2 linked regions of the Homo sapiens genome follow. The protein of the gene in region 1 interacts with the protein of each later gene in a biochemical or structural test. Each region holds a gene or a part of one and is shown in the gene's direction. Other genes may lie near its edges.

Evidence for each region.
Region 2: the proteins of UBE2G2 (region 1) and RNF145 form a complex in vitro, tested with the Homo sapiens proteins (one study listed by BioGRID).

Annotation. Positions count from the first base shown.
Region 1 is NC_000021.9:44,784,638-44,788,456, reverse strand, and holds part of UBE2G2 (ubiquitin-conjugating enzyme E2 G2), read left to right. Parts: intron 1-361; coding exon 362-397; intron 398-491; coding exon 492-537; intron 538-3,819. UniProt on the Homo sapiens protein: Accepts ubiquitin from the E1 complex and catalyzes its covalent attachment to other proteins. In vitro catalyzes 'Lys-48'-linked polyubiquitination. Involved in endoplasmic reticulum-associated degradation (ERAD).
Region 2 is NC_000005.10:159,199,434-159,203,252, reverse strand, and holds part of RNF145 (RING finger protein 145), read left to right. Parts: intron 1-3,819. UniProt on the Homo sapiens protein: E3 ubiquitin ligase that catalyzes the direct transfer of ubiquitin from E2 ubiquitin-conjugating enzyme to a specific substrate.

The DNA of each region.
Region 1 (3,819 bases):
TTAGCTGGGCGTGGTGGTGGGCGCCTGTAGTCCCAGCTACTTGGGAGGCTGAGGCAGGTGAATGGCATGAACCTGGGAGGTGGAGCTTGCAGTGAGCTGAGATCACACCACTGCACTTCAGCCTGGGTGATAGAGTGAGACTCCGTCTCAAAAAAAAACAAAAAAAAAACAAAAAAACTTTGTGTAGTTGTTATCAGAACCGTTATTGTACTAGGTATTCACTTTGGGCAAACAGAATTTTCACTTGTTAATATGCATATTCTATGGTTTATAGGCTTATATATTTTGTAAAGGTGTTTTGTTAAAATGACAATGTAACATTTATTCTGTTTGGTAATGGTTTTACTTATTAATTTTATAGAATTAACACTGAATCCTCCGGAAGGAATTGTAGCAGGTAAGGTACCAAAGTTAACTTCCTTATAATTTACTTTTAATTGCCAAAGTTCCTTCAAAGTTAAAATGTTGTGAAATTTTTTCTCACCCTACAGGCCCCATGAATGAAGAGAACTTTTTTGAATGGGAGGCATTGATCATGTAAGTTAATTTTAGGTGTACTAGTTTTTAGGGCTTTGCTGGAAGTCAGATGTAAGAATCACATCAGCAGTGTGACTGTGTCCAAAAGCATCAGCTGGAAAAAAGACTGAGTTCTCCAGTAATGCCCAGCTCTCGTCTAGGCTGCTGGTCTGAAAGCAGAGAACCTGAGCATTGATCCAAAAGAAATGAGTGTTTCCTTAGAGCCAGTCAAAGGTTTAGTTATAATTATGTAATATATGTATTATATATTTGAGAGTTTTAAGGTGGTAATTTTGGAATGTTGTATGATCGTGGTTAAAATAACCTCAAATGGCGTAGGTGGCTTTGGCTTCCAGAAGTAGCCCCTTCAGGTGTGAAATTTTGACGAGAAAAGGGTCCTCAAAGATGTGTCTGACCACACCAGGCATGTTAGCGCAGCCTTGCCTGCCCTGCCTTTGGGCCAGGACTTCTTTTTCTTCTCCTTTCCTCCCAGTTCGTATCTTCGTGTGCTGCATCTCCTTTTTCTGTTGCCTTGTCTGGACTTGTTGGCCTTGTGTTCTTTCCGACCCAAGACATGGCTTAGTAAGTGAGCAGTGTGGTTCTGGGATTCGTGGCATTTAACTTAGGGTGACGTTGCTTGGAAAGAGAAACACATGGACCCCTGATTTTAGAGTGTTCTATGGCCTTGACTCACTTTGCTTTTTCTTCTTTCTACCTTAGATGTGCAATTTTTGGCCATTCTTAGTGTATTTTCAGCAAAGTGAGGTTAAATAAAATTTAGGAAGTTGAAATTTGTAATCAGTCTCTGTTTTCTTTCTTTTCTTTTTCTTTCTTTCTTTTTTTTTTTTGAGATGGAGTTTCGCCCTTGTTGCCCAGGCTGGAGTGCGGTGGCACAACCTTGGCTCACTGCAACTCCTGCCCCTTGGGTTCAAGCGATTCTCCTGCCTCAGCCTCCCTAGTAGCTGGGATTACAGGTACCCACCACCGTGCCTGGCTAATTTTTGTATTTTTAGTAGAGACAGGGTTTCCCCATGTTGGCCAGGCTGGTCTCGAACTTCTGACCTCAGGTGTTCCGCCTGCCTTGGCCTCCCAGAGTGCTGGGATAACAGGTGTGAGCCACCGCGCCAAGCCCAGTCTTTGTTATCTCATTAGTGAGGTCTTTTAATTTGCAGCAAGGTCTTGGGTTGGATTTTGTTGCATTGAGAAGTGCTCTAGAGGGCAAGGACCGGAAAAGTGAGGGCTGTGAAACAAGTGTGGGCTCTGGCTTGAAGTGATCTTAAGCTTCATGATGCTTTTGGAATTCGCCAGTTGCTTGGATCACATTAATTCTTAATGCTCTATGGGTTGGTCTGAGAAACAGATTGCAGCTAAGTGTTGTCTGTGGAGGTTAAATTGATATGAAAATTAGTATTTTGGATAAACAAAATGTTTTTAAAAAATCATCAAACGCTATTCAGATGGTACAGCACGCCTGCCATTTCCTGATCATTTGTAATATCCTAATTGCTTGGGCCTATGGCACATGTTTTTTCGGTGTCTGAAGGTTTCTGGAATCTGTGTTTGTGTGTAATGTGGCCCCCAAGGCAGTTATGAGATGGATGGCGAGTCCCACAGTCTGGGCTGTCCTCATTAGTGGACTGTGCGGCTGTATACTTGTATCGGGGCAGCTCTTTTTATTTCTGTAGAAGCAGGAGATCATATACATGAACTGATGTGTAACCTGCTTGTTTCATGTGTTAATGCAGGCGCACCTGCACTCATGCCAGCGGGGCAGCACGCCTGCTGCAGGGGCCCAGAGTGGCGGGAGGCCTGTCTGTGTGTAGAGGTTGAAGGCGCCTGTCGTGTCTGCAGTTATTTGTGGGGTGTTGGCTCCTCCGTAGGCCTATTTGGAAGCTCATTAAAGGAACAGTTGAGCCGTCCAGTGTGGTTTTAAAAAAATGTTCATTGTTAAAAATCGATTAGGGTAACTATTACCAATTTTAAATAAACAGTGTAAAATTAAACCAATATTTTGAAAACCTGTCTTAAAAAGTAATTAGAACTATTTTTAGGTAGAGCACTTCTGTGTTTGAACAAGGCTTTTTGCATTAGTTTGGAATTCCCCTGCTTGAAGATCCTAGTGAGTTTGTGGGTTTTGGTCCTGTTCCAGACCCTTCACAAACAAGAGGCCGTTTACAAGTGCACTTAAAATGCCTATTAGGGAATTAACTGTCCTCCCATCGATTTGTCTCACCCTGCTATTTTGGCAGACATCTGGCCAAGTCTTTGCTCCTTGGTGATAAGTTTCTTCTTTTTCTCTTTATTCTTTGATGGCTTCCAGGGCCGCCTCTCTACCCTAGTATTTCTAAAACCCGTGCTTGCCTCACAGAAGTCGAACGGCTGTTGGTTTTTGCTGTTGTGCTTGCCTTAAGGGCCAGTGAAGAAAATGTCATTTTAGATATCTAAGCAACAAACACTAAGTGCCTTTGATATGTTAGGGCCCTTGTCTGAAGATACAGACATGTCAAAGATGCACTGAAATCTTTACCTTGGAAGACCAGGGTTGAGGGATTAGGATGGAGAATAGAACAGATTAGTGAATGAGAGGACTAAATAATGAGAGTCCGCAGGCTGTGTCTTTAAACACCGGGAATAACTCTGCTGACCCTGCCACGCTCATGGTGGAGTCTGAGCCTGCAATCAAATCGAGCGTGGCTGGGATGGCGGCACACCAGGGGATGTGGCCACCGTGGCTGTGGGTGCTAGCATGGCCTGCTGCTCTTGGCCCAGTCACTTTGCCTCTCTTTGACTTATTTGGATCAAAACAGAGAGGTTTATCAGCATCTTCTAGACAGATGGTTACAGGTCTTGCCCAGCTCTAGGGTCCATGGCCCGTGACCCCATTGCCACTAAGCCACGGTGACGGGGGTGTAGCTGCAGAGAGGGTGGGTGCCCTCTTTCATTGATGCACTTATGTGGGACAGAAGGAGTCCTAGACAGCTGTTCATCCCCAGTGGCCGGACAAGGCGTGGAGTCCCTTGGCGCTTGCTGTCCTCTGTGTCCTGCCCCAGCATTCCCAAATCAGCTGGCTTGGTGACCTTCTTGTCTGGTTCATGCCTGACTGCTGTCACCTCCCCAGACCAGTGGTTCTAGAGGCTGTGGTGAAATAAGAAGGACCTTCCTTTACTGAATGGTGTGTTTGGGGCCCAGTTGGTGGATGGATGCTCCCAGGTTCTCCAGCTGGCTCATGGCAGCCAGCTTGAGGGCTCCCAGGCTGCCGCGGCTTCTACCAGGAGCCCTTCTCACACTGGGGGCCAGTGTCCG
Region 2 (3,819 bases), on another chromosome or scaffold:
ACAAGAAAGTAAGCAGTATTGGATTTATTTTACTGGATAAAACTGGAAGGCAGAAGAAAACATTCTAGATTTTAATATGATGAAATATAAACAATGAGAAATACTTTTAGAGACATTTGGCCCCTTCTAATTTGTCCTTGTTTTGGGGTTTGGTAGTAATTCAGAAAGTAAGCTTTTTAAAATGCAACATTCTTTATTGTTCCCTGAGATAAACGAAAACATTAACATCAGCTGAAGATAAAGTGTTCAGTTAAATGAAATTTGGGAAATGATACTATAATACTTTGTTCCATAAAAAAAATCCTCCTGGAACTATAATTTTTTTTTTTTTTGCTTGAATCCCCTTTCAAGAAAAATGGAACTATCATTGATATGCTATGGGGTTAGTGGTAAAAATAATGATAAGAGATTGAAGAAATTAAAGTCAAGAAATACAAGCATGAAACAGATAAAATTTACCTAGAATAAAAATCATGATCCTTACTTTTTAGGTTTTGGTTTATTTGTAATGTATATAGCAATATATTTTATTAATGTTGTGATTGCAGAGTTCCAGACATGGTTTGAATGGTACTATAGTGGTTTTGCTAATATTTTATTATTAGAGTTGCCTGTCACAAAATATATCTTTTATAAAGTCATGAAGAGTTGTCCTGTCTCTCTGAGATTTATTTTTATCACTTTCTGGGTTCTAAAACTTAGCCCTGAGAACGTTCCCCTTACATCCCTAAGAGGTAAGCTGTTGTGGAAAGAAGTATGATGTAGTAGAAGAGATGGTGCACTAGAAACAAAACGTTTCGGTTCAGTAAACTCATCTTTTGTGGATAGCACTACCTTGGGAATGTCTCTGAAATGGGAAAGTTCCTTTATGTTGCAAAACACTGTAATTCTCAGCCTTTTATGAAAGGCTTTGTATGTTAGCCAATTTATGGAAAGTAATTCCCGTCAGTTGTAGAACAACTGGGTACTTGGCTTAGATTTTTAGATTAATCAGCAAAGTCATACATACTGTGGTTTTAAAAATGTGCTTATATATTGTTTCTGAATAGGTTGAAATATTTATTATAAAAACAGCTGCCTGATAACCAGGAATATTAATTTTAGAAATTGAATGTTTTCGAGTACAATTGAAGTTCATAATCTGGTTTATAATTTTATAAAGTTAGTTGAGCCATCTTAAATATGCTTACTCCATGCCAAAGTAGAGTAAGCTCAGTGGTTGCATGAACAGATATTTTCAGCTTGAACAATGTTTTGGTTGGAGTTACCTTTGTCAAAATATTACATAGTGTTTATGTAATGCTCCTGTTTACAGAATTTCACCCTCAAATACAAATCAAATTTCACCTTAATAAAATAATGTATCTACATTCAGAAATAAAAAAGCATAAAAAGTATTTAATGAAAAGTATCTCCCTCCCATCTCTGTTACTCATTCGCTGAGTTCTCACTCTGAACACCATGTAGCTTTTATTTCTTTCTGTATAATTCTAGAGATATTTTTATGTATATATAAGTAAATATAAAAAATGTATATTTCCCCCCTTTTTATACAGATGTTAGCATGGTATACATGGTTTTGAATCATGGTTTTTGTTTGTGATGTATGTGGAGCCATAACTACTGCTTTTAGATATTTATGAAATAGAGTTTTGTGCTCTTTTTCTTATGATGACAGTCTGCCGGATCTTAAAGACTCTCTTGAGTAGATATCGAGGCCTCATTTCTCCTCTTCCCGATTGCATTTTACGTTGGCATAGTATCTTCGTATGGATATACCATAATTTATTGAACTAATTACTCCATTGGTGGACATTTTAGATAGCCTACCTTCTGCTATTTTGTACAGCGTTGTGCTAAATAACTTTGTATAGCTATAATTTCAACAAGTACAAATATAACCTGGGGCTAAGTTACTAGAAGCGAAGTTGCTGGGTTAAAGAGTACAGTGGTCCGTCGGTGTATGCTGGAAGTTGGTTCCAGGATGCCCACGTATACCAAAATCTGCGCATACTCAGGTCCCTCAAGTGACCCTGTGGAACTATGTATGCAGAAGGTTGGCCCTCTGTATACGTGGGTTTTGCATGTTGCAAATACTGTATTCCATAAGAGTTTGGTTGTAAAAAATCTACATGTAAGTGGACCCTCACAGTTCCATCCTATGTTGTTCAAGGGTTAACTTATATATATTTGTAGTGTTGACAGATAGTACTTTCCATAGGGTTTTACTATTTTGTACCTCCAAAAACCGTGGTTGAGAGTTCCTACAATCCTATATTATCAAAACAGCCTGTTACCACAAATATTTTGGCTACTCCAATAGGTGGAAAAATTGATTTTTTTAACTCAATGTAGTTTTAGTTTGCATTTCTATTATGAATGAATTGAACATACACATACTTAAGAAAAACCTGTATTTTCTCTTCTGAGAGTTGTCAGTTTATATACCCTGCCCACTTTTCTGTGAGATTCTTTTTTTACCAATTTGTGGGAATTTGGTATACATTAGGGAAATTAATCCTTTGTGATAAGTTGAAAATAGTTTTTCCAGTTTCAACTCAGTGATTTTGCTTATGATTTTTTGACATTTAGAAGGTTTTTAAGCTTTAGTATTTTGAGTCAATTAGAAAAGCCTTCTTTATTCTTGAGTTTATAAAGAATTCTGTTGTATTTTATCTTACTATTTTTGTGGGTTTATTTTTACATTTAAATCTTTGCTTCATTTATCTGTATGAATAGTGTGTTATAGGTATAATTTTATTTTTTCTAGATAACCACACAGTCATCCTCACCTATTTAGTCCATTTTTTTCTCATTATATACTGAATTCTCACATATATTTTGTTTCATTTTTGAACTTCTCTTCCTTTAGTCTGTCTGCCTGTTTGTGAACTATTAACACGCTGTCTTATTTGTTGAGGGTTTAGATTATATTTTACTGTCTAACAGGGTTAGTCCCTTCAGTTTTCTTTATTTCCTCCTCTGAGCTTTTTTTTTATGGTTAGTTTTCTATGTGAATTTAAGAATTGTCTCAAAATTGTCTAGGTCTCATTCCAAAAACAAAGCAACCCATTTGATTTTTTTTAAAATTTAGATTGCATTATTACTAATTTTGGGGGCAGGTGGGGAGGATGGGTTCTTGCTGTGTTGCCCAGGCTGGCCTGGAACTCCTGGGCTCAAGTGATCCTCCTGCCGCAGCCTCCTGACATTTATTGTTTCTAGGTATTTTATCTTTTTTATTGCTATCGTAAGTGGGAGTTTTTCCCCCTTTATGTCTTCTAATTGTAATTAAGGAGCTTAAAAATTAAGGGAGGGAGCAATAAAGTTTGTATTTAATGGAATGTAATTGTGTCTTCAAACTTAGAAGCTTTCCAGGGTGGGTTCTGCTGAAAGAGAAGTGACTGCCCACTGTTTTTTGGAGTGTAGGATATGAAAGGAGGAGTAGAAGTAATATTGGTAAGGTAGAATAGGGCTTTTGTGAAGAATCCTGAATACATACAGTAGATATGGTGCTTAATTCTATAGGTCGTGGTGGGTCAGTGGGGATTTTAGAGCAGGTGAGCTGCATTTTAAGATTGATTAGGCAGCGTTTTATAGGATGATGGATTGGGGAGGGGAGAAACTGGAGGTAAGAAGACCAGTTAGGATTTTAGGCAAGAGGTAATGAGAGCCAGAACTGGCAAGGTAGAAATTAGAAAGGAAGAAATGGATGCGAAAATCCTTTTGAAACTACCATCACTAAAATCATTAGTGACTTAAAATGTAAAATTCAACCCTCATTTATGTCCTAATTCTACAGACTTTTCTATGTTTATGGAG